Homo sapiens: one gene and its partners. The protein of the gene in region 1 interacts with the protein of each later gene in a pairwise test. Each region holds a gene or a part of one and is shown in the gene's direction. Other genes may lie near its edges.

Region 1 (3,523 bases):
TCCTGGAGATGTGTTTATAAATTGCTCACTCTAGCTTTCTCTCTTGTTCTTTTGACAGAGTTAAATTAGAAGAGAGAGGAGTTGCTGAGAATTCTGTAGTCATCAGTAATGGTGACATTAATTTATCTCTTAGAAAAGCAAAGAAGCGGGCATTTCAGTTAGAGGAGGGTGAAGAAACTGAACCAGATTGCAAATATTCAAAGAAGCATTGGAAGAGTCGAGAGAACAATAACAATAATGAGAAGGTCTTGGATCTGGAACCAAAAGCTGTCACAGATCAGACTGTCAGCAAAAAAAACAAGAGAAAAAATAAAGCAACCTGTGGCACAGTGGGTGATGATAACGAAGAGGCCAAAAGAAAATCACCAAAGAAAAAGGAGAAATGTGAATATAAAAAAAAGGCTAAGAATCCCAAGTCTCCGAAAGTACAGGCAGTGAAAGACTGGGCCAATCAGAGATGTAGTTCTCCAAAAGGTTCTGCTAGAAACAGCCTTGTTAAAGCCAAAAGGAAAGGTAGTGTAAGCGTTTGCTCAAAAGAGAGTCCCAGTTCCTCCTCGGAGTCTGAATCTTGTGATGAATCTATCAGTGATGGTCCCAGCAAAGTCACTTTGGAGGCCAGAAATTCCTCAGAGAAATTACCAACTGAGTTATCAAAGGAAGAACCCTCTACCAAAAATACAACTGCAGACAAACTGGCTATAAAACTTGGCTTTAGCCTTACCCCCAGCAAGGGCAAGACCTCTGGAACAACATCTTCCAGTTCAGACTCTAGTGCAGAGTCAGACGACCAATGCTTGATGTCATCGAGCACCCCGGAGTGTGCTGCGGGTTTCTTAAAGACAGTAGGCCTTTTTGCAGGAAGAGGTCGTCCAGGCCCAGGGCTGTCATCACAGACTGCAGGTGCTGCTGGATGGAGGCGTTCTGGCTCAAATGGTGGTGGACAGGCTCCTGGTGCTTCTCCCAGTGTGTCTCTCCCTGCTAGTTTAGGAAGAGGATGGGGTAGAGAAGAGAACCTTTTTTCTTGGAAGGGAGCTAAGGGACGGGGCATGCGGGGGAGAGGTCGAGGACGAGGGCATCCTGTTTCCTGTGTTGTAAATAGAAGCACTGACAACCAGAGGCAACAGCAATTAAATGACGTGGTAAAAAATTCATCTACTATTATCCAGGTAAGTATTATTTTTTGTAAGTTATCTCCTCCCTTTCCCCTTAGAATGTGTGTGGAGTTCATGTCATGGATTCACATTTTCTCACCAGTGATGATGTCACATGACTAACACTGTTTTTCAGAATCCAGTAGAGACACCCAAGAAGGACTATAGTCTGTTACCACTGTTAGCAGCTGCCCCTCAAGTTGGAGAAAAGATTGCATTTAAGGTATATTTCAAAAGAACAGTCACAGCAAAAAAGGTTCATTCCCCTTCCAAATAAACTTACTTAGAAAATCAGGTTAAATGTGTTTGTAAAAGCCCTTCCCACTGGAACCCCAGTGTTGTTACGGGTTCCTGGTAGGGCTCCCAGACTGGTCGGGGTGGACACGCCAACATGGCATGATGGAGGAGCTGTGGGAATGGGAGAGGATAAGAGGGCTTATGTATTTGTGGGTTTTTTCTTCTTTTTTAGCTTTTGGAGCTAACATCCAGTTACTCTCCTGATGTCTCTGACTACAAGGTAAGGATGTTTATTTAAAAGTAAGTTGTCAGTGTATTATTAAAACTAAAGTCATATTTAATACTACTTGTATGGATAATACAGATTTGTTTTTTTACTAAATAAAAATGCCAGAAAGTAGAAAATGAAAACATTAATCGAAATGTCAACTCTTTAATAGTATCACTGGGAAGTCTCCCTGTGTTATTTGCCTTATACTTGGGAAGAATAGAGTAGGAGAATGATGAGCTTAATTTTTACTTTTTTAAAAAAAATATATTAATTTTTTGTTTTTAAATAGCGACAGGATCTTGCTATGTTGCCCAGGTTGGTCTCAAACTCCTTGGCTCAAGCAATCCCCCCATCTTGGCTTCCCAAAGTGTTGGGATTACAGGTGTGAGCCACTATGCCCAGCCAGTTTAATTTTTTTAGTTACTTTTTTCTAATTAGTTTAGACCAACTTATTTGGGTATTCATTCCTTCATGATTCTAAACTTTGAAAGAAAATAATAAATAGTTCTCAGCAAGAAGATTTGATTATTTTCATCATGGGAATCTATTTTACATATTTGTGAATTACTTCTGGTTGTTATGATCTAGTATGATTTCTTCTGCATTATCAGGTAACCACAGGTAATTCATAAATATTATCCGTGGAATTTACTTACTTAATATCTGTATGAGTCTTTATATTGGCATGTGAGGTTTTTCATAGTTCAGTAAAAGCTTGACTCAGTCAGAGGGATCACAGAATTACATGTTTCTTTTTCACCCACCAACATTTTGTTGAAAATCTTGTTAAAGTGCATTCTTTCTTTTTTTTGATGTACTATATGGAATGTAAGACCATTTTTTAAGGTAATAATTGGTAGTGTTAATATAGTAACATAGATAAAATACAAGGGAATTTGATTTAATCTGGATTGATGCCTTGGAAGACTTAAAATCTTTATAGAAACCTTTCCTCAAGGCTGGGCTTGGTGGCTCCCACCTGTAATCCCAGCACTTTGGGAGGCCAAGGTGGGTGGATCACGAGATCAGGAGATTGAGACCATCCTGGCTAACACAGTGAAACCCCGTCTCTAGTAAAAATACAAAAAAAAAAATTAGCGGGGCATGGTGGCGGGTGCCTGTAGTCCCAGCTACTCAGGAGGCTGAGGCAGGAGAATGGCGTGAACCCGGGAGGCAGAGCTTGCAGTTAGCTGAGATCACACCACTGCACTCCAGCCTGGGTAACAGAGCGAGACTCCATCTCAAAAAAAAAAAAAAAAAAAATCTTTCCTCAAAAGCAGGCTGGAAGAATCAGTTAATGAAGGGATCTGGTGGGTTAGTTCTAGGTCGTTGGTGTTTTGTTTTTTATCTTCTTAGGCACTTACTATCTCCTATGGATGAGGTGATCATGTAATTTATCACCTGAATCAGGATACTTGTGAGTCAAAGGGATGCTATTAATAGTTATGCTGGAAAGATGTACAGACCTGTCTTGAACAAACCAGGGTGTTTTGTCACCCTACCATAGAAAACATTTAATTGTGTGATATATGAGGAAATGGAAATGAATATTGTATTGATACATCCCACAACCTCTATAAATTGTAATTCTAGATGATACTGATTTTTAAAAATTGCTTATTAATGGCCAGGCACAGTGGCTCATGCCTGTAATCCCAGCACTTTGGGAGGCCAAGGTAGGTGAATCACTTGAGGTCAGGAGTTCGAGACCAGCCTGGCCAACATGGCAAAACCCCATCTCTACTAAAAATATAAAAATGAGCCTGGCATGGTGGCGTGCACCTGTAGCCCCAGCTACTCAGGAGACTGAGGCACAAGAATCACTTGAACGCAGTAGGTGGGGGTTGCAGTGAGCTGAGATCAT
Region 2 (2,252 bases), on another chromosome or scaffold:
TTTCTAAAAATATTAAGGCTCTCAGTTGTTTCATTAATTCTAAAGGGTTAAAAAGGGCTGAAATTTGTTTATAGCACTAAATGTTTTTAATAGGAAATTTACTCACATAAAAAATTTAAGCAGAAGTAGTAGAATACAGATTATCATAAAACATATTTTCTATGAAAGGCATTTCTTCCTCATCTTCAATAAATATGAAGAAGTTAGAGGAGAGGAAAAAGCAATCACTCTAAGACAACTTTTCGTCTTTGAGGGACATTATGATAAGCCTGAAATTAATACGCACAGGCTATTGCATTTTTCTGTGAGAAATGTGCCCCTTTGCTGTGAGATTCTAAAATGTGTTCAGATTTAGTTTTTATTCAAATGATCAAGATAACGCATTAGTTAGATAACTGCTATTTCAGATAGTGAGGTTAGCTGAGAAAAGGAAGCATGGTAGAAGAAATGCAAATAACAATTCTTGGAATGCCAACTCCTGAGGCTTAGTTTAACCAAGCTAATTTGTTGGCCCAGGGATGGCCATCATATGAGTTTCCATCAATACCTGACTTCCATCAACAACTGAATCCATGTTCTGGAGTATTACAGAGACTGTTACTATGACCTCAAAGACTGTGGCTACGAATCTGAAGTTAACAAGACATACATCTTCTCTTACTAACTTAAGCCATATCTGTCAACTCTATGTTTGATTTTTCTGACCCTGGTGCTTTTACTTCTGTTTCTGCCAAACTTCAGCCTACTCTATGGGGAAGGTGAGTAAAACTAGTAGTTAGAACAAATATGAAGACTGAAAAAAACTAAACATACTCTTCATAATGAGATCCTGTTCAGAGAACAGTAGTGATCAAAGTGCAAACTGTTGGAAAATATGGATATATGTACATCTGTACATGTATATAGTGTATAATATGTATGTATATGTTATTGCTCATATGCAGAAATCTATCCATTTGCAGACAGCCCAGGTGGGTCAATGTTTCTAATGGAAAACCATTTAGGGCCATTCAAAACCATTAGGGCTAATTTGTGGAGACGAATTCTACTCATTCTGGAATTAATTTGCTGTCTTTTGACATCCACAAAGCCAAACTAACAAAGTGTGAAACATAAAGGGGCCATCATTTAGTTTATTCTGTTTATCTGGACTTATAACTATCTTTACATTTGAACTATTAATAGTTGATTTGCAAACTGTATTGGCATCTCTTGGTTTTGAGTGACCCCTGCCCCCCTCAAGTCTTTTGAGAATTTGGAGTGGGCTTCACTGGCCATTCAGACAAAGGGCCTTATTCATAAGTGGACAGGTTTCCCCATAGGGACCATCGCACATATACATATAAGTACATACTTCCATCAGGCTTGTAACAATTGATTTAAAATCACTCCACAGTATTGATAAATAGCTCTATATTTTCAAGGTGCAGAAGAATTCCACAGCCTTAATTATTTCAGTGTCTTGCTGGTCTGCCTTAAGTGTATCTTCTGGGTTTTTGGTTATTTTATTATTTTTAAATTTTTCTGCTGTTGTTCATTTTGTATGCACACAATGTCGTTTTGTAAAGGTAGGTTGTAAATATTTTATTTGTAAGTCAAAATCACTCATGTGTAATGTTGTAAAGTGATGACCTGCTGTCTTGTTACTGCTACAGTAAATGTTATAAGTTATGGATGAAACTTCAAAATGTACATCTCACATGTTATGCATTCCTATAAATATACTATACTAAAGATACTATATGGTTGTCTCTTTTTTCCTAATTAAACCTTTGTTCAAAGAAAAGAGTAATTTTTTTCTTTCTCCAAATATATGAAAGACTTAGAAAAGGTAAAAATATCACAGGATTATTACAACATGTTTGGCCCAGGATTTTAGAGAGAAAGCAACAATTTTGTGCCCTAGAGTATTCTAAGGCATTTACCCAAAAATGCCAAGGAAACCTCAGAGCCAGGTGTGGTGGCTAGCACCTGTAAATCCTAACACTTTGAAAGGCCAAAGTGGAAGGATCTCTTGAGCCCAGGAGTTTGACACCAGCCTGGACAAAATAAGGAGACACCCACGTCCCCCCAACCCCCCACATATTAAAAATTGTTTTAAAAATATTAACTGAGTGTGTTGGTGCATGCCTGTGATCCCATCTACTTGGGAGGCTGAGGTGGAAGCATCATCTGAACCCGGGAGGTAGAAGCTACAGTGAGCTGTGATTATGCTACCTCACTCTAGCCTGGGCAACAAAGTGAGACCAGAC
Region 3 (3,217 bases), on another chromosome or scaffold:
GGCTGTCATTCCTCAAATGGCAAAACCAGCCCCTGTTGAGGAGTAGCTCATTGGCATGAAGTAGACTTAAATCTTGATATAACTTCAAAGCCGATCTGGGCTGAGTCTTTTGGACCTATTTTTTTAAAAAAGTATTTACGTAAGTGTTTGATTCTAAGAATTGTTTGTAAGTATTTTTAATATATTGTAAGGAGTTATTTACCCAAAACACTTGCTCCAATTTTGCCCCTTATAATTGCCAAATTGTAAGCATCAATAAGTAGGTAAGAACAATTTATATAAAAACTGATAGAAATGACAAATTCGGGGTTTCGGCTTGTCTGGGAGTCAATAAGTACGCACAGTGCTCTGCTACATTGTAGAGTTTCTGTAGAGATCAAATTTGACTCCACTTTAGGAGTCCCAAAGCAAATGTCCATGTCTAAGATGAATATTTAACTTGCATAGTCATTCTGTGCTATATTGTAACTGCCAGATGGCCAGAAAGAAGGCAACAGTGGACTCAGACTTCTGAGGAATTTGGGTTTGTTCCCCTTTGTAGACTAATGTGTAGGTTGCTGTTGTGCGAAGATCGTGTAACTTTAGCAGACATGTATTTCTTGCACAGCTAATAGAAGACAAAGTTGAAAAAAAGGATGCAAAATAAAAAGCTGCCTAAGGTGAAAGTTAGAAATTGTAGACTTTTTTTTACCATAATAGTATGTGTTCATTAAAGATGATTTGGGTTTATTTTACAGCTATATAAAACATAATTTGATGATGTACTTCTAACCTTTCAAGCATTTTCTGTTATTGACTATATAATATAGCCTCCATAAATGTTTTTAATGACAATATTCTGTTGAACGGTTGTACCATACTCAGCCATGCCCTTTCATTTTGACGATAGTGTTTCTAATATTTTGTATTTTTATTCCCCTCCCCCCATTTTTGTATTACTTAAGATAGATTATCAGAAAGACAGTTACTTTGTCAAAGAGTATGGGCACTTGATACATAATGCCAAATTATTCTTCATAAGAGCTGTTGCCAAATCAGTGATAATGTTCATTTAATTGTATTCTTGCCAGCCATGTTTACTGGGGTGATAGTTGTTATTGTGGTTGTTATTGTTCTTTAGGGGTAGGTTCCCAATATGTGGTCTTTAAATAATTATCTAATGGTGTTTAAAAAGATGTTTATTCTGTTTGTCAGGTACAAAGATATTTATGATACATGTATGACTTGTCTAAGTTATTAACATTTTCTCTAGCCTTAGGTAATGCATGAAAGCACATGTTTCAGTGCCACTCACATAAGAAGTGCCCGGTAAGTGTTAGCTATTATTGTCTACTTGAGTTACTACTTTCTAAAAGTATGTTGAAGTCTTTTTCTGTAATTGCAGATTTGTTGATTTTGCATTTGAGTATTTTCTATATTTTGAAGCTGTTAGATGCGTAGTCATGATTTTTGGTGGAATGTTTTATCAATTTTTGAAAATTGCCTTTGTCTCATATAATGCTTTTCATATTGAACTATATTTTGTCTGCTATTAAATACTTCCAAGCCTGATTTTTGTAATTTTATTTTTTATTCAATTACAAGAATACATACTATAAAAAGGTTTTCTTCAACACCTTTCCATAGCTTCACAGTTCCCCTCAGAGACAGGCACTATATGTTCTTTTGTTTTTAATGTATCATATGTTTGCATAGGCACAGAATGTATCATTTCATATGTTTATATATTTTTCTTTACACAGTTGGTGATATGTTACCATTCTATACTTTATTGAATACCTGTTTGAAATGGTCTCATATCAATGTATATAGAACTGTCATTTTTAAAAGCTGCATACTGGGCCCATAGTTGATAGAACTGGTTTTCTGTTGATAAAATATTTAAATCATTTCTTGTGTCTTCTATTAAAAACAAATTTTGCAGGCCAGGCAAGGTGGCTCAGGCCCGTAATCCTAGCACTTTGGGAGGCAAGGCAGACAGATCACCAGAGGTCAGGAGTTCAAGACCAGCCTGGCCAACATGGTGAAACACCATCTCTACTAAAAAATACAGAAATTACCCGGGCATAATGACGTGCACCTGTAATCCCAGCTACTTGGGAGGCTGCAGCAGGAGAATCACTTGAACCCAGGAAGCAGAGGCTGCAGTGTGCCGAGATCACGCCACTGCACTCGAGCATGGGTGACGGAGCAAGACTGTCTCAAAAAAAAAAAAAAACAGTGTTGAGATCCTTTAAGTATTATTGTGCACATGTGCAAATATTTCTAAGTATTAGGAATGGAATTATTAGGTCAAAAGATAACTTCATTTTTTGTGTTTATAGCTATAGCTGGGTTGCAAGCTTTCTATTATTTGCTTGCTATATCTTCATTTTAATTCTTTGTGTTTTATGTTAGTGTTTCTTATGTCTGTTTTTGTTATCTGAGTGGTTTTATCTTTTAATAGGCTAATTTAACCCATTCATATTTGTAATTATTGTATTATTTAGACATAATTCGGAAGCCCTATTTTATTTGTAGTTATACTATTGTTTAGGGTTTTTTTCTATTAAGCTTTTTGTTGGATTGACTGTATAATTTTTTTCTTCTAGTATTCTTTGAAAATTTGAAAATTGTTATATTTTATGTCTAGTGTTCTTTGAAAATAATTCTTTGAAAATTATTTTTATGTCCTAATTTTACCATTAAAATTATGACCACTTGAAAATAATGTTTCTCAATGTCTAGAACAATGCTGGCCAATAGAACTTTCTGTAATGCTGGAAATGTTCTATATCAGAGCCATCCAATATGGCAGCTAATGAGCACTTGAAGTGTTGCTATGACATGGGAACTGAATTTTTTTTTTTTTTTTGACACAATCTCCCTCTGTTGCCCAAGCTGGAGTGCAGTGGCATGATCATGGCTCACTGCAGCCTCAACATCCTGGGCTCAAGTGATCCTCCCACCTCAGCCTCCTGAGTAGTTGGGACTACAGGTGTGTGCCACTATGCCCAGCTAATTTTTTTCTTAAGAGATAGATAGGGTCTTACTATGTTGCCTAGGCTGGTCTCAAACTCCTAGGATCAAGTGATCCTCCAGTCTTGGCCTCCCAAAGTGCTGGGATTATAGGCGTGAGCCACCATACCCAGCAGGAACTAAATGTTTAATTCTATTTAATGTAATAGTCACAGTGGTTAATGGCTACTGAACAGCTCAAATCTAGAGTTACTCTTTT
Region 4 (2,972 bases), on another chromosome or scaffold:
GCCTGCTTTTTGCATGTATTTAACTCTTTTGTGTCTCCTCAGCCAGCCCTAAGCACTAAGCATTCCTTTTTTCCTTAAGATGTACTGCTGTATTTTTGCTAAGTGTAAAATCACAGATGTCCTCAGTGGACACTTCAGAAAATACAGAATATAAATATTTACTTACTTTTTAAATCTTTTTTCTATATATGTTATATATTTGTAATTTATATATGCTTTTTTTTTTTCACTCAGCATTACCACAACAGGCATTTTCTTCTCTTTAAGATGCTTTATAAATATTTTCATCATAGTTTTTATCAAGTTGCACTATAATTTACTAACTTCCACATTCAGGCTGTTTTCAGTTCTAAATAATATGGTGATGAATAATTGTGCCTACGCTTGATTACTTTTAGATTATTTTCTAAAACAGAATCCCAGAAGTGGAATGACTGGGATGAGAATCATGAGGAGTTTTAAGATCCAGGTCTTCTGTGCAGTTATCTTTGAGGCTGTGACAGGTTATTTTTGGCTTTGGTTCCCTTTCCCCCAAATGGGGCTCCAGACTGTTTTCCTCTCCTTCACATATCCAGTGCTGTTCTATCACAGGACTTTCTGAGCCCATTACATTTCTTCCAGAAGATCCTGGGCCTGCACTGAGCTTGTTCCAGTTAGGTTTGCTGTGCTAGAGCTCAGTGTAGATGTAGGAGGCAGGGCTGGAGCTCCGAGTGAAGCCATCCTGGCCAGCGCTTGGCTAAGGTCCTTCTAGTTGGAGGCGGTCACTGCAGCTCCATGGGAACCTACATCCCATGGAGGTTCTTCATCCACATGGAGGAACTTCATCCACAAAACAAAGGGTTTGAGCTTCAGGAGCAGCAGCAGAACTCTTGTTTGCCGTGGGAGTTGGCAGCGAGCACTCCAGCTGGAGTGGTGGCAGCTTTGGCCAGGAGTATGCTGACCGGTGTAGTCAGTCCAGGGAACAAGAGGATGGCCCTGGAGGGGCTTTTTCAGTGTTGCTTCTTTTCTAGACAGAGGAGGATATCTTGGTCAGAAAAGAGCTTGAAGAAATTGCCAGGACTCACCCAGACCAGTTCAACCTGTGGTACACCCTGGACAGGCCTCCCATTGGTACGACATCCATTGCCCTCACTCACCATGGGTCAGCACCAACCCTTGACCACTTTGAGGACTGGTCTCTGTCTCTTTGTTTTGTTTTAGTTTTGTAGGACCAGATGTGGGGGTTAAGCCTGGGGCTCTGGCTCCAGATGGGAAATGTGAGAAATTGAGGGAGAAAGGATTTGGGATGGCCTGCTTTTAAGGGCAATCGAGAGCAGGTGTCTAATACATCAGCAGCACCTCACGCTGCACTGAACATCAAAAGGGACACTGCCCCTGTCCACTGTGAACACCCACCCATTCCACACAGCCATCACATACACATCTAATATGGGCACTGACCCCTTCACCACTCACCCTTCTGCTTACGGCCACCACACCCCTTACCGCCCACCTCACCTGGACATGCTGAGCCCCCAGACAGCTGCTGCAGCCCAGACAGCATCCCAGCAACCACTGTGCACAGAGCACCCCACAGGCGCGCCTCTCACACTGCTCCCGGCTGTACCTGCTTGTCATACAGGTCCCTGGTCGGCAGAGGGCGCTACCCTACTGAGCAATTCTGCGCAGTTCCACTAACACCAGGCCACACCCTGCCGGACAACTCCAGCTGGCTGTACTGATTCACACACCTCGGTATACCTCGTTGTGTTCTCCTTCCTCGTCAATGCTGACAGCTGACAGACAGCAGCAGGGCTTCAGGGTCCCTGCAGTGAGCCTGGGACCTGGGGTGATTGCTGCAGAGGGCTGTTTACTAGTTCTGAGGCTTTTTGCAGGGAGCAGTAGTACAGACTTCTAAGCCTTTGTAGAGCAGCTTGTCACCTCCTCCCTGGCTGAGGGTGGGTGTGCAGGCGGCCTGGGATCAGGAACTCCACCTGGCATCGCTCAGCTTGCTCCTGCATCTCCTTCATTTCAGGCTGGAAGTACAGCTCAGGCTTCGTTACTGCCGACATGATCAAGGAGCACCTTCCTCCTCCAGCGAAGTCCACGCTCATCCTGGTGTGTGGCCCGCCACCACTAATCCAGACGGCGGCTCACCCTAACCTGGAGAAGCTGGGTTATACCCAGGACATGATTTTCACCTACTAACACCTCCACGTGCTCAGCAATTTTGCATGTCCCTTTTCATCTGTTTCAGAGTAAGTTCAATTTCACCACGGTAAACTGGGATGTTTTCAAAAGTGCCTTGCCATGTACCTTCGCGCACACACTGGTTCTCCTCTTTTGGGTGTGGGCCTAACAAAAAGGGCTCAAGGGGCTGGAGACTGGCTGCTGGGGCCTCCTTGCTTGGAGGCTGGAAAGAGCTCCATTTCAGTATCTTTCTCCGTGGTTTTGTGAAATAAACTCAAGTACAAAGCAGACAGCCCATGAAGTGTGGCTCTGTGGGGGACGTGCTAGGCAGTCAGGAGGCCGTGGCCTGGCCTGTGAGTTGGCTTCTGCATGCCCATGGGGGTCACAACTGGCAAGTGTCGGGGCAGTTCCTAAAAAACTCCAAGTGGGGTCACATCAACTCTCAAGAATCTCTCCATGGCACTAGGGGTCATGGTAGGAGTGGTTACACACAGAAACTTCTCAACTTTCAAAGTCAGGTTCCAGAAACTGCCTTAAATCCTTTGTATCATGAAACCCAAACGAGGGTCTGTCGGGGTGGGGGGGAGGGACAGCCAACCTCACCCATCCCCCTGTTCACTGTCTCCTTGGGGATCCTTCACTGCTTTCAAGGGAGACCCCACTCTGGCCACCCCCATCTCTCCAGGACACACTCCAGGGCCTGGCTCCCAAGGCCCTTCTTGGTTTGCTCCTGCCGACTTTATCAGATTTTTCTTTCCCTGGGCCCCCAACTCCGACCCCATTCTCTCACCTACTGGTTCTCA
Region 5 (3,523 bases), on another chromosome or scaffold:
TTTCATTTCTTGGTTGTACCATAATTTACATAACAATTATTTGGCAGTTAGATTGGCATAATTTTTTTGGGGGGGGACAGTGTCTAGGCTTTGTCTCCCAATCTGGAGTGGAGTGGTGCAATCTCGGCTCACTACAACCTCTGCCTCCCAGTTCAAGCGATTCTCTTGCCTCAGCCTCACCAGTAGCTGGGACTAGAGGCGCATGTCACCATGCCTGGCTAATTTTTGTATTTTTGGTAGAGGTGGGATTTCGCCATGCTAGCCAGGCTGGTCTTGAACTCCTGACCTCAGGTGACCCACCCACCTTGGCCTCCCAAAGTGCTGGGATTATAGGTGTGAGCCACCATGCCCGGCCTTGATTGGCCTGATTTTTTACTATTATCTGTGATGTTATTTTGAACATATTTATACTTAAAATTTGATTTGCGTATCTGATTATGTTCTTTGGGTAGAGTCCTTGAAAATCCTTATTTGTAGTAATTATAGTAACCACTAGTTTATTAATACTTCACATGAAATAGTCACTATGTTAAGTAAACACTTTATATATATGATTTTAAGACTTTCAGCTATAATCTTGTGGAGTAGTCAGTCAGACAAGGTTCTTCTATTAAGATTCACCAGGCTGGGTGCCGTGGCTCACACCTGTAATCCCAGCACTTTGGGAGGCCGAGGCAGGCAGATCACCTGAGGTCAGGAGTTCGAGACCAGCCTGGCCAACATGGCGAAAACCTGTCTCTACTAAAAATGCAAAAATTAGCAGGGCGTGGTGGTGTGTGCCTGTAATCCCAGCTATTTGGGAGGCTGAGGCAGGAGAATTGCTTGAACCGGGGAGGTGGAGGTTGCGGTGAGCCGAGATTGTGCCATTGCATTCCAGCCTGGGTGACAAGAGCAAAACTTAGTCTCAAAAAAAAAAAAAAAAAAAATTCACCAATCTTAGACTTTATGCAGTAGCCAAGCAAACCTTTTTCTCCACTATTGCTGTGAACTTTCATATTTACTATGTTCCCAGACTGGGTAGTGACTCCTCTTTCTACAATCTTCCTTAAAATTGAGGAAACTTTAACTAACATAAATCATTTCTCTTTTGCTAGCTCTGTGTTCTTTGAAGCAGTTAATGAATTTAGTTCCTCACAGTAGCTTTTGTTAGCATTAGATCTGTACTTTTATTTTGTTTGCATTTGTAAAGCATTTTTCTATTTCCTCTATCAGATTGTAAGTTCTTCAAGATCAAAAAGAGGAAAAGTGTTTTTTGTAGGTATTCATAATGCCTGGTAAAGGTTTTGCTGTTAATAGTTGCTAAAAAAATACTGCCAACTGGTTTGGCTAGCTAGCGGTACTGAAGCCTTGCTGTTGTATTCTTTTCAGGTGCACTGTATTAGCACAGAGTTCACTATGAGGAAACATGGTGGAGAAAAGGGGGTGCCATTCCGAGTACAAATAGATACCTTCAAGGAGAATGAAAACGGGGAATATACTGAGCACTTACACTCGGCCAGCTGCCAGATCAAAGTTTTCAAGGTATTCCTGGGCAATGTGCTGGCCCTTGGATTCTTTTACCTTATCATTCTATTTTAACATTAGTTACCAAGTCAGAAAATCAACTTGTCTTTTTTTGAAAACTCACACACACGCAAAAAGTCTAAGCTAGAGTCATTGAAATAATTACCAAGATGCCTGGTAAAGAAATTTACATGGTCGTAGGATAATAGGAACTTGGAAAAGAGGGCTAGAGGCAAGAACATGGATTCTCATTGAAAGCTCTTAAAGCCTATTGAAGTTACAAGCTCTTGTAAAGCTCACAAAAATTGACTAGTTATGGTTATTTTCATACTTGATCTTTTCTTATTTGGTCTTATTTATTTATTTATTTATTTTTGAGACTGGGTTTCATTTTGTCACCCAGGCTGGAGTGCAGTGACGCAATCATAGTTTAACCTCCTGGGCTCAATTGATCTTCCTGCCTCAGCTTCCCCAGTAAGTGGGACTACAGGCATGTGCCACCACACCGGGCTAATTTTTGTATTTTTTATAGAGAGGGGGTCTTGCCATGTTGCCCAGGCTGGCCTTGAACTCCCGGGCTTAAGTTATCTGCCCTCCTTGGCCTCCCAAAGTACTGGGATTACAGGTGTAAGCCACTGTGCCCCAGCCAGGGTCCTGTTTATTTTTATCACATGAATAAATATGTTCTCATTGTAAGAGATTGAATAATACAGAGGTATTCATAGCAACACTGAAATTCTCCCTTTACTACTCTTACACTGACCCCCTCCACAACCTCTTCCCAGAGGAAACCACTGTCATAATTTCATAATTTCGTATGTGTTCTTCTACTTCCCTCTTCTTTTTTTTTTTTGAGTCGGAGTTTCACTCTGTCACCCAGGCTGGAATGCAGTGGTGCAGTGCCAGCTCACTGCAACCTCCGTCTCCTGGGTTCAAGCTGTTCTCACGCCTCAGCCTCCCCAGCACCTAGGACTACAGGCACACACCACCATGCCCAGCTAATTTTTTGTATTTTTAGTAGAGACAGGGTTTCGCCATGTTGGCCAGGCTGGTCTCGAACTCCTGACCTCAGGCAATCCGCCTGCCTCGGCCTCCCAAAGTGCTGGGATTACAGGCATGAGCCACTGCGCCCAGCTCTTCTAGTTCCTTCCTATGCTTTTATACACACACATACATAGCTATATACATATTTTCTTTGACACATAAATGGGATTATACTATTTGAAATGTTTTGAGGCTAGGCACGGTGGCTCATGCCTGTAATCCCAGCACTTTGGGAGGCCGAGGTGGGCGGATCACAAGGTCAGGAGTTTAAGACCAGCCTGACCAAAATGGTGAAACCCCGTCTCTACTAAAGATAAAAAATTAGCTGGGTGTGGTGGCGGACGCCTGTAGTCCCAGCTACTGGGGAGGCTGAGGCAGGAGAATAATTTGAACCCTGGAGGCGGAGGTTGCAGTGAGCCAAGATCTCGCCACCGCATTCCAGCTTGTGTGACAGGATGAGACTCCGTCTCAAAAAAAAAAGAAAGAAATGTTTTGAGACTTGATTTTTTTCAGTGAACTATGTGCTTTAGAGATCTTTCCATGTCAGTAGCTATAGATCTGATTCTTTTCAACTCCATCGAATATAAACATTTAAATTTCCTATTTTCAAACTTAAAGTGATGTGTCTTGCCTTTACATCACTGCACATACAATTTTGTTTCATACATGAATATTTAAGTTTTTGGAAGCAATATTTTGGGTTAAAAGGTGAGTACCTGAATTTAAAACAAAATATTTCTCATTTCAGCCCAAAGGTGCAGACAGAAAGCAAAAAACGGATAGGGAAAAAATGGAGAAACGAACACCTCATGAAAAGGAGAAATATCAGCCTTCCTATGAGACAACCATACTCACAGAGGTAAAAAGATTTCTTTTGGTGACAATTTCAGTTCATAATTTTTAATCTTAAAAATTCATCACTTCCAAACTGGTCAGAATTTACTTCTCCTAAGCCTTGAGGGACACAGTATCACAT
Region 6 (3,523 bases), on another chromosome or scaffold:
ACCTCAAGTGATCCGCCCACCTTGGCCTCCCAAAGTGCTGGGATTATAGGTGTGAGCCACTGTGCCTGGTCCATGTTTTCTTTATCCATTTGACTATCCATGGACATTTGAGTTTTTCCCCCTTATTGGCAATTCTTCTGCCTCAGCCTCCCAAGTAGCTGGGATTACAGACGTCTGCCACCACGCCCAACTAATTTTTGTATTTTTAGTAGAGACGGTTTCACCATATTGGCCAGGCTGGTCTTGAACTCTGACCTCAGGTGATCCACCCTCCTCGGCCTCCTAAAGTGCTGGGATTATAGGCATTTATTTACCGTTCTGCTTTCCCTTTGCTAGCAGGAATTTTCTTTCTCTCTCTCTCTCTTTTTTTTTTTTTTTTTTTTTTGCTTTATTGGGAGAAAAAGTGCTTAGAGTGTTCAGTTATTTTTTATATTTTTCTAATTCATTTCTTCTCTGGTTACAAATCAGTCATGCATGGATGTTTTATTTTTTCTGAAATCTCCAAGCACTTTAAGCAAAGGTTTTTATTAGCCCACTTGAGTAGTGTGTTCATGGGAGTATACTTCCATTGCGAAAGAAGTATTGGTTTACTTGTATCCAGAAGTTTTAGTTACTCTTGCCTGTACTGTATTCTAGGTCTGTACTAGCATTATAATTTTCCATCTTTCTCCTGTCCTTTGAGTACCTTATTTTTTCTTTTAGAAATTTGGTTTGTCTTTAATGGACTGAGAGGAATCTTTTCCTTTCTTTCTCCGGGTTCTGATTTTTTTTAAAGGTCTATTAACAATTTGTGCTTACTGTTGTTAGTATTCTTGTGTGCTTGGCTTTATCAGGCATCCTACAATGTAATGTTGGTTAGATGGGAATTAGAGGTGCTTGGAGGTTGGCTATGTCTGCCAACAGGCAGGAGGCCCCAAACTAACGTTTCCCAGTTCCATTAAAGGTTTCTAGAGCATAACTACTCTTCCTGTTTCATCTACCCCCTCCATACCCTCTTTGCTAACATTCTCAGTAGATCTTAATAAGCAGATGTCTGGAATTACAGCAGATTTTACCTCAAACAGTATTTTCAGATTTAGAATTTCTGTATCATTTTTAGGTGTTATGAAATCCAATCTAGGTGTAATGGAGTAAGAGAGTAAATATTTCTTTTTCCTAAATACTATTTGAAAAGAAGTCTGAAAATAGTGTGTTCCTCCACCCCCCCACCCATGCCCATCCTGCCAGTTTAGGAGCACTTTTGATTCTTTTTTTTCTTTTTCTTTTTTTTTTTGAGATGGAGTTTCACTCTTGTTGCCCAGACTGGAGTGCAATGACACAATCTCAGCTCACCACAACCTCTGCCTCCTGGGTTCAAGCGATTCTCCCGCCTCAGCCTCCCGAGTAGCCGGGATTATAGGTATGTGCCACCACACCTGGCTAATTTTGTATTTTTAGTAGAGACGGGGTTTCTTCATGTTGGTCAGGCTGGTCTCGAACTCCCGACCTCAGGTAATCCACCTGCCTCGGCCTCCCAAAGTGCTGGGAGCGAGCCACCATGCCTGGCCATGGAGCACTTTTGTTTCTTAATCTGGCCAATATTTTAAGGTTACAATTAGAATTACAGTTGTTTATATTTGTTCATTTAATGTAGTCAACATAATTTCCATACTTTGAACACTCTTACGGAATTGTTTATTTATAGAGACTAGTATAAAGTTGTTCTATCTTACTTAGTTTGAACTAATCCAGAGTTATACAATCTAGAAAGTAAAGAAAGTTTTTATTGTCTCTTAAATATCAATGTAATTGTAGAGTGTGAAATAATTTCTTGGGTTTCCTTGGTCCCGTGTTCTTCTGAGGCAGTGGTTCTTAACTGAGCAGTCACGTTAGAATCACCTGGGAAGCTTTTTAAAAAAAGAATCTGGGCTGGGCGCGGTGGCTCACGCCTGTAATCACAGCACTTTGGGAGGCCGAGGCGGGTGGATCATGAGGTCAGGAAATCGAGACCATCCTGGCTAACACAGTGAAACCCCGTCTCGACTAAAAATACAAAAAAATTAGCTGGGTGTGGTGGTGGGCGCCTGTAGTCCCAGCTACTCGGGAGGCTGAGGCAGGAGAATGGCGCGAACCCGGGAGGCGGAGCTTGCAGTGAGCCGAGATCGTGCCACTGCACTCCAGCCTGGGCAACAGAGTGAGACTCTGTCTCAAAAAAATAAAAATAAAAATAAATAAACAAATAAACAATCTGGCCGGGAACAGTGGCCTACGCCTGTAATCCCAGCACTTTGGGAGGCCAAGGCAGGCGGATCGCCTGAGGTCAGGAGTTCAAGACCAGCCTGGCCAACGTGGCGAAACCCCATCTCTACTAAAAATATAAAAATTAGCCAGGCGTGATGGGCACCTGTAATCCCAGCTACTCAGGAGGCTGAGTCCGGGAGAAGCACTTGAACCCAGGAGGCGGAGGTTGCATTGAGCCGAGATCGCGCCATTGCACTCCAGCCTGCAGCCTGGGCGACAGAGCGAGACTCTGTCTCAAAAAAAAAAAAAAAAGAATCTGTGCCTCACCCCTAGCAATTCAATTCTGTTTGGGCTAAGCCTGGGTTGGGACTCAGACATCAATACAGCTCTGCATAGAAGGTTTTACAGTATAGTCAGCAATAAGAACCTCTGTTTCAGGATAAAATGATTTCTACAAACATTGTTTCATTCTCTACATAATTAAATGTCACACCTCTACAGTCATGTGAAAGTTCCATTAAAAAGTTAGTCGCTATATAAAGTCTTTTATCATATGGCACTTGAAATATTTTGCTTTTGCCTTTGTATTTATAGCCATGAGTAAGTAGCTCAAAAAAGATGTACATATTCCTCTGCCAACTTTCCTGTCTCCTTGTCTGAATGAAAATTCATCATAAAGTCTCAGTGGTAAGCATTGACAGAGAAAATACCTAAGACTGTTTTCCTACAGAAACAGTCGTCTTGCTCTTTTTGTTCCTTTTTTATTAAGGATTCTTACAGCCTGAGAGAATGAAGAGCTGTGTAGTCCAGGATATCCGGCTGGCTACCATAGATCTGAGAGTCCAGTCTAGTACAGTAGATTTTTCTAAATACATAAGAATCAAAGATATGTATTGAATATCAAGCCAGCTTTAAACAAACATAGATACTAGTATAAAGTTGTTCCATCTTAATTTGAAGTAATCCAGAGTTACTACAATCTAGAAGGTAAAGAAGGTTTTTGTAATCTCTTAAATATCAATGCTAAAACTATTATGATAATGTATCACTTTGATAACAGATAAAACTTTTAAAAATGTAGCACTCATATTTTGATTCTGGTATTTATAAGTATAATAAAATACTTTATTTTTCCATAATTTCTCTCACATCTTAAAATTCTCACCAGAAATTCTCAAATGTAACTTCTAAGCTCTTTCTGTATTCATGGGAAACTTTAGCTATTTCACATACTAGAGAAAATAAAATAGACAGTCAAAGAATGATGAGCAAAGGCTATACAAAAAGTCTAGCTAATAATTTG
Region 7 (3,523 bases), on another chromosome or scaffold:
ATACCCAGAGAAGATATACCTACTATGTATACCCACAAAAATTAAAATAAAAATTTTTAAGTGTTTGCTATTTTAAAAAAAAAGAAAAAAAGAAAACCCAGAGAAGTCTTCAGGGGGCTCAGGGATGGCTCCTCAGAGATAGCAACGACTAAATTGAGACCCGAAGGAGGAACCCCAGGGATCAGTAGAAGACATGAGAGAAAAAGTAACCCAGCAGAGGCAACAGTGTGGTGAAGGCCCAGAGGACTGATCCACGGCAGCAGAGTTGCTGAGAGTCCTGTTGGGTGGGGTGCTGGCTTTGAGGTGGGAGGTGGTGGGGGGTTGCTGCAGAGGTCACCAGGGGCCTGAGCTGCTGGGCACTGTGGGGCTGAGTCCAGGTAGCTGACTTTTCTTAGAGTGATGTCAGAACCCAACAATTCAGGGTCAGAAGAGGGACAGAAGAGGGGGCCATCCAGCCTTTTGTCCCCCTTCTCAACCACCCACTGAAAAGCATCCACTGTGTGCCTACTGTGAACCCTGGGGTCAGTCCCTGTGGGACCCAGGGAGGCCTGCGATACGGTGGCGAGATGGTGAGAGAGGACCTGGAATCAGCCAAACATGGGTTTTCATTCCAACTCCAAGACGTGCCACTGTGTGGCTCTGGGCAGTCAGAGCTCCCTGTTAGTGGAGCGAGGACAGCAGCAGTGCCTTCCCCATGCCACGCCGAGGACAGGGAGTGACAAGGACACAGACCCTGGCCCCAGTCCCCAGTCTGCCAAGGAGGCACGTGTGGGAGATCACAGCAGTTACATGTAAAAAGAGGTGCAGGGGCCAGGCCTGGTGGCTCACGCCTGTAATCCCAGCACTCTGGGAGGCCAGGGTGGGTGGATCACAAACAAGGTCAGGAGTTCGAGACCAGCCTGGCCAACATGGTGAAACCCCATCTCTACTAAAAATACAAAAAGAAAGCAGCCCGGTGTGGTGGCAGGTGCCTGTAATCCCAGCTGCTCGGGAAGCTGAGGCAGGAGAATTGCTTGAACCTGGGAGGCGGAGGTTGCAGTGAGCACAGATAGCACCACTGCACTCATGCCTGGGCAGCAGAGAGAGACTCTGTCTCGGGGGGAAAAAGAGATGCGGGGCACCCCCACTCCACACGTGGCCTCTGCGTGTCCCCTTGTCCCTCCGAATGACCCACTGTCTCCCCACAAGGCCCTCCAGGAGCGCCGGGCCCGCTGCGAGACGCAGAACATTGACCCCGTGGTGTGGACCAACCAGCGGGTGCTCAAGTGGGTTCGAGACATCGACCTGAAGGTGAGGGTGATAGCGGAGGTCGGGGTGACTCTCGGGCATACACAAACCCCATGCAAATCTATATGCAAATCAATATGCAAATCACATGCAAATCAATATGCAGATCTCATGCAAATCAATGGGCAAATCCCACACAAATTAATATCCCCTTTGTGTGGGCTGGAGCATCTTAACTCAGGCCCAGCAAGAATTACCTGCCTCCTGTTATTCAGGAGGAGGGAACTGCTTACCTTCCAAATAGGAGCCCCATGTCATGATGCTTTGCTCACATGGGGTAGAGAGGCTGAGCCAGCCCCACTCTCCTAAGCAAGTGTGGGGTTGAGATTCATTTAACAAATATTGATGATTTCCTGCTAGGGTCAGGGACCATCTCAGTAACAGGAGGTCCCTGACCTCGTGGCTCTAAAAAATTGGGGAGGGGTTCCTCTTCACCGTCAAATTAACTGGTCCCCAGGGGGTCAAGCCCTTGCTGTTGGGGACAGAGCCCCACGTGGAACTGGGGCCCCCTTAGGCCAGCAGCATGGCCCCTGCAGGCTAACAAGTCCCCTGCCTTTGCCCCCAGGAGTACGCAGACAACCTGACCAACAGCGGCGTCCATGGTGCTGTGCTGGTGCTGGAGCCCACATTCAATGCCGAGGCCATGGCCACTGCCCTGGGCATCCCCAGTGGGAAGCACATCCTCCGGAGACACCTGGCAGAGGAGATGAGCGCCGTCTTCCACCCAGCCAAGTGAGCACGGGCTGGGATCCAGTCATGTGGGCTGCTGGGTACAGTACAGCTCAGGGCTTTGGAAGCAGATGGTCCAGCTCCCCATCCTGGCCCATCACTTACTGCCTCCCACTCGTTCTTTGCACCATGGTGGTCACCTTTTACAGATCAGGAAACTAAGGCTCAGAGAAGCAAAGTGCTTTAGCCTGAAGGTCATAGACTAGAAAGACGTAGAGGAGCAGTCAGGTCTTGAATTAAGTGTATATTAGATCAAAAAACACCCAGGTGTTTAGAGAAGAGATAGCAAGCAGTGCATGTGTAAGGAAAGGCCACGTGCAGGTGGAGTGTAGCTGGGAGGACTTGCATTGGCCTAATAGGTTGAGTTGGTTGGTCCAGGTGGGGCAACTGTGGGGACAAAGGCTTGGAGTCAGGAATGAGCATATTAATGATGCTTATGGACCAGGTAAGCAGACCACATCAGCCCACCTATCCTAGTATCCCCATCTGAAAAGTGACCAGAGAATGAACACCTGGGCATAAACCAGTCCCCCTCCCAGTGGATTCTCTTCTTAAAATCATGCACTTAGGGTTAGATGACCATTTATTGAATACTTCCTGTGTGAACTATCTAATTTCATCCTCCTGGCAATGTCAAGAGATCAGTAGCACTATCCCTCCTTTATAGATGGAGAAACTTCTTCAAAGGTACCAAGCTATGTGCCCAAGATACACAGCTAGTAAGTGGCAAATCCTAGATTTGTCCTTTATTCTATCAATATGGTGTATTATATTGATTGATTGAATTTCATATGTCAAACCAACCTTGCATTCCCAGGATAAATCTCACTTGGTCACAGTGTATAATCCTTTTTATATATTGCTGGATTAAATTTGTTAGTACTTTGTTGAAAAAATCTGCATCTATATTTATAAGGGATATTGGTCTATAGTTTTCCCTCCTTGTGATGTTTTTGTCTGATTTTGGTATCAGGGTAATATAGCCCTCATAGCATGAATTGGGAAGTATTCTCTCCTCTTCTGGGTTTTGGAAAAGCTTGGAAGGATTGGTGTTTGTTATTCTTTAGACATTTGGTAGAATTCACCAGCGAAGCCATCTGGTCTTAGGCTTTTCTTTCTGGGAAGCTTTTTGACTTCTAATTCAATCTCTTCACTTGTTAGAGGTCTGTTCAGATTTTCTATTTCTTCTTGAGGCAGTTTCAGTAGCTTATATCTTTCTAGGAATTTGTCCATTTCATCTAGGTTAGCTAATCTGGTGGCATGCAGTTGATCATATAATTTTTATCTTATAGTGCCTCTTATATATAAAGTTGGTAGTCATATTCTCTCACTCATTCACTTACTCCTGGTTTTAGTGATCTGAGTTTGAGTTTTGTTTTTTTTTTTAATCAGCCTATCTAAAGGTTTGTTGGTTTTGTTGACAGAGCCCAGATTTGACCTTGGGGCTCTCTAACTCAGGCCTGAGTCCTAAACCCCTAAACCACATGGATCCTTAGGGAGCAGCTGG

Evidence for each region.
Region 2: the proteins of COIL (region 1) and KALRN interact in a two-hybrid assay, tested with the Homo sapiens proteins (one large-scale study listed by BioGRID and IntAct).
Region 3: the proteins of COIL (region 1) and PREPL interact in a two-hybrid assay, tested with the Homo sapiens proteins (one large-scale study listed by BioGRID and IntAct).
Region 4: the proteins of COIL (region 1) and CYB5R2 interact in a two-hybrid assay, tested with the Homo sapiens proteins (one large-scale study listed by BioGRID and IntAct).
Region 5: the proteins of COIL (region 1) and TFCP2 interact in a two-hybrid assay, tested with the Homo sapiens proteins (one large-scale study listed by BioGRID and IntAct).
Region 6: the proteins of COIL (region 1) and ZBTB25 interact in a two-hybrid assay, tested with the Homo sapiens proteins (one large-scale study listed by BioGRID and IntAct).
Region 7: the proteins of COIL (region 1) and KAZN interact in a two-hybrid assay, tested with the Homo sapiens proteins (one large-scale study listed by BioGRID and IntAct).

The regions. Positions count from the first base shown.
Region 1 is NC_000017.11:56,947,532-56,951,054, reverse strand, and holds part of COIL (coilin), read left to right. Parts: intron 1-58; coding exon 59-1,166; intron 1,167-1,287; coding exon 1,288-1,374; intron 1,375-1,620; coding exon 1,621-1,668; intron 1,669-3,523. UniProt on the Homo sapiens protein: Component of nuclear coiled bodies, also known as Cajal bodies or CBs, which are involved in the modification and assembly of nucleoplasmic snRNPs.
Region 2 is NC_000003.12:124,724,585-124,726,836, forward strand, and holds the end of KALRN (kalirin), read left to right. Parts: 3' UTR 1-1,741; downstream 1,742-2,252. UniProt on the Homo sapiens protein: Promotes the exchange of GDP by GTP. Activates specific Rho GTPase family members, thereby inducing various signaling mechanisms that regulate neuronal shape, growth, and plasticity, through their effects on the actin cytoskeleton.
Region 3 is NC_000002.12:44,317,097-44,320,313, reverse strand, and holds the end of PREPL (prolyl endopeptidase-like), read left to right. Parts: coding exon of another isoform or gene 1-115; 3' UTR 116-2,118; coding exon of another isoform or gene 2,119-2,196; 3' UTR 2,197-2,707; downstream 2,708-3,217. Other genes in the region: amino acid transporter heavy chain SLC3A1, read right to left, coding at 1-115. UniProt on the Homo sapiens protein: Serine peptidase whose precise substrate specificity remains unclear. Does not cleave peptides after a arginine or lysine residue. Regulates trans-Golgi network morphology and sorting by regulating the membrane binding of the AP-1 complex.
Region 4 is NC_000011.10:7,664,589-7,667,560, reverse strand, and holds the end of CYB5R2 (NADH-cytochrome b5 reductase 2), read left to right. Parts: intron 1-256; exon of another isoform or gene 257-949; coding exon of another isoform or gene 950-1,006; intron 1,007-1,010; coding exon 1,011-1,110; coding exon of another isoform or gene 1,111-1,174; intron 1,175-1,621; coding exon of another isoform or gene 1,622-1,721; exon of another isoform or gene 1,722-1,734; intron 1,735-2,014; coding exon 2,015-2,187; 3' UTR 2,188-2,457; downstream 2,458-2,972. UniProt on the Homo sapiens protein: NADH-cytochrome b5 reductases are involved in desaturation and elongation of fatty acids, cholesterol biosynthesis, drug metabolism, and, in erythrocyte, methemoglobin reduction.
Region 5 is NC_000012.12:51,107,119-51,110,641, reverse strand, and holds part of TFCP2 (alpha-globin transcription factor CP2), read left to right. Parts: intron 1-1,368; coding exon 1,369-1,521; intron 1,522-3,295; coding exon 3,296-3,406; intron 3,407-3,523.
Region 6 is NC_000014.9:64,497,317-64,500,839, reverse strand, and holds part of ZBTB25 (zinc finger and BTB domain-containing protein 25), read left to right. Parts: intron 1-386; exon of another isoform or gene 387-1,399; intron 1,400-2,847; exon of another isoform or gene 2,848-2,907; intron 2,908-3,523. UniProt on the Homo sapiens protein: May be involved in transcriptional regulation.
Region 7 is NC_000001.11:15,102,171-15,105,693, forward strand, and holds part of KAZN (kazrin), read left to right. Parts: intron 1-1,188; coding exon 1,189-1,290; intron 1,291-1,852; coding exon 1,853-2,019; intron 2,020-3,523. UniProt on the Homo sapiens protein: Component of the cornified envelope of keratinocytes. May be involved in the interplay between adherens junctions and desmosomes. The function in the nucleus is not known.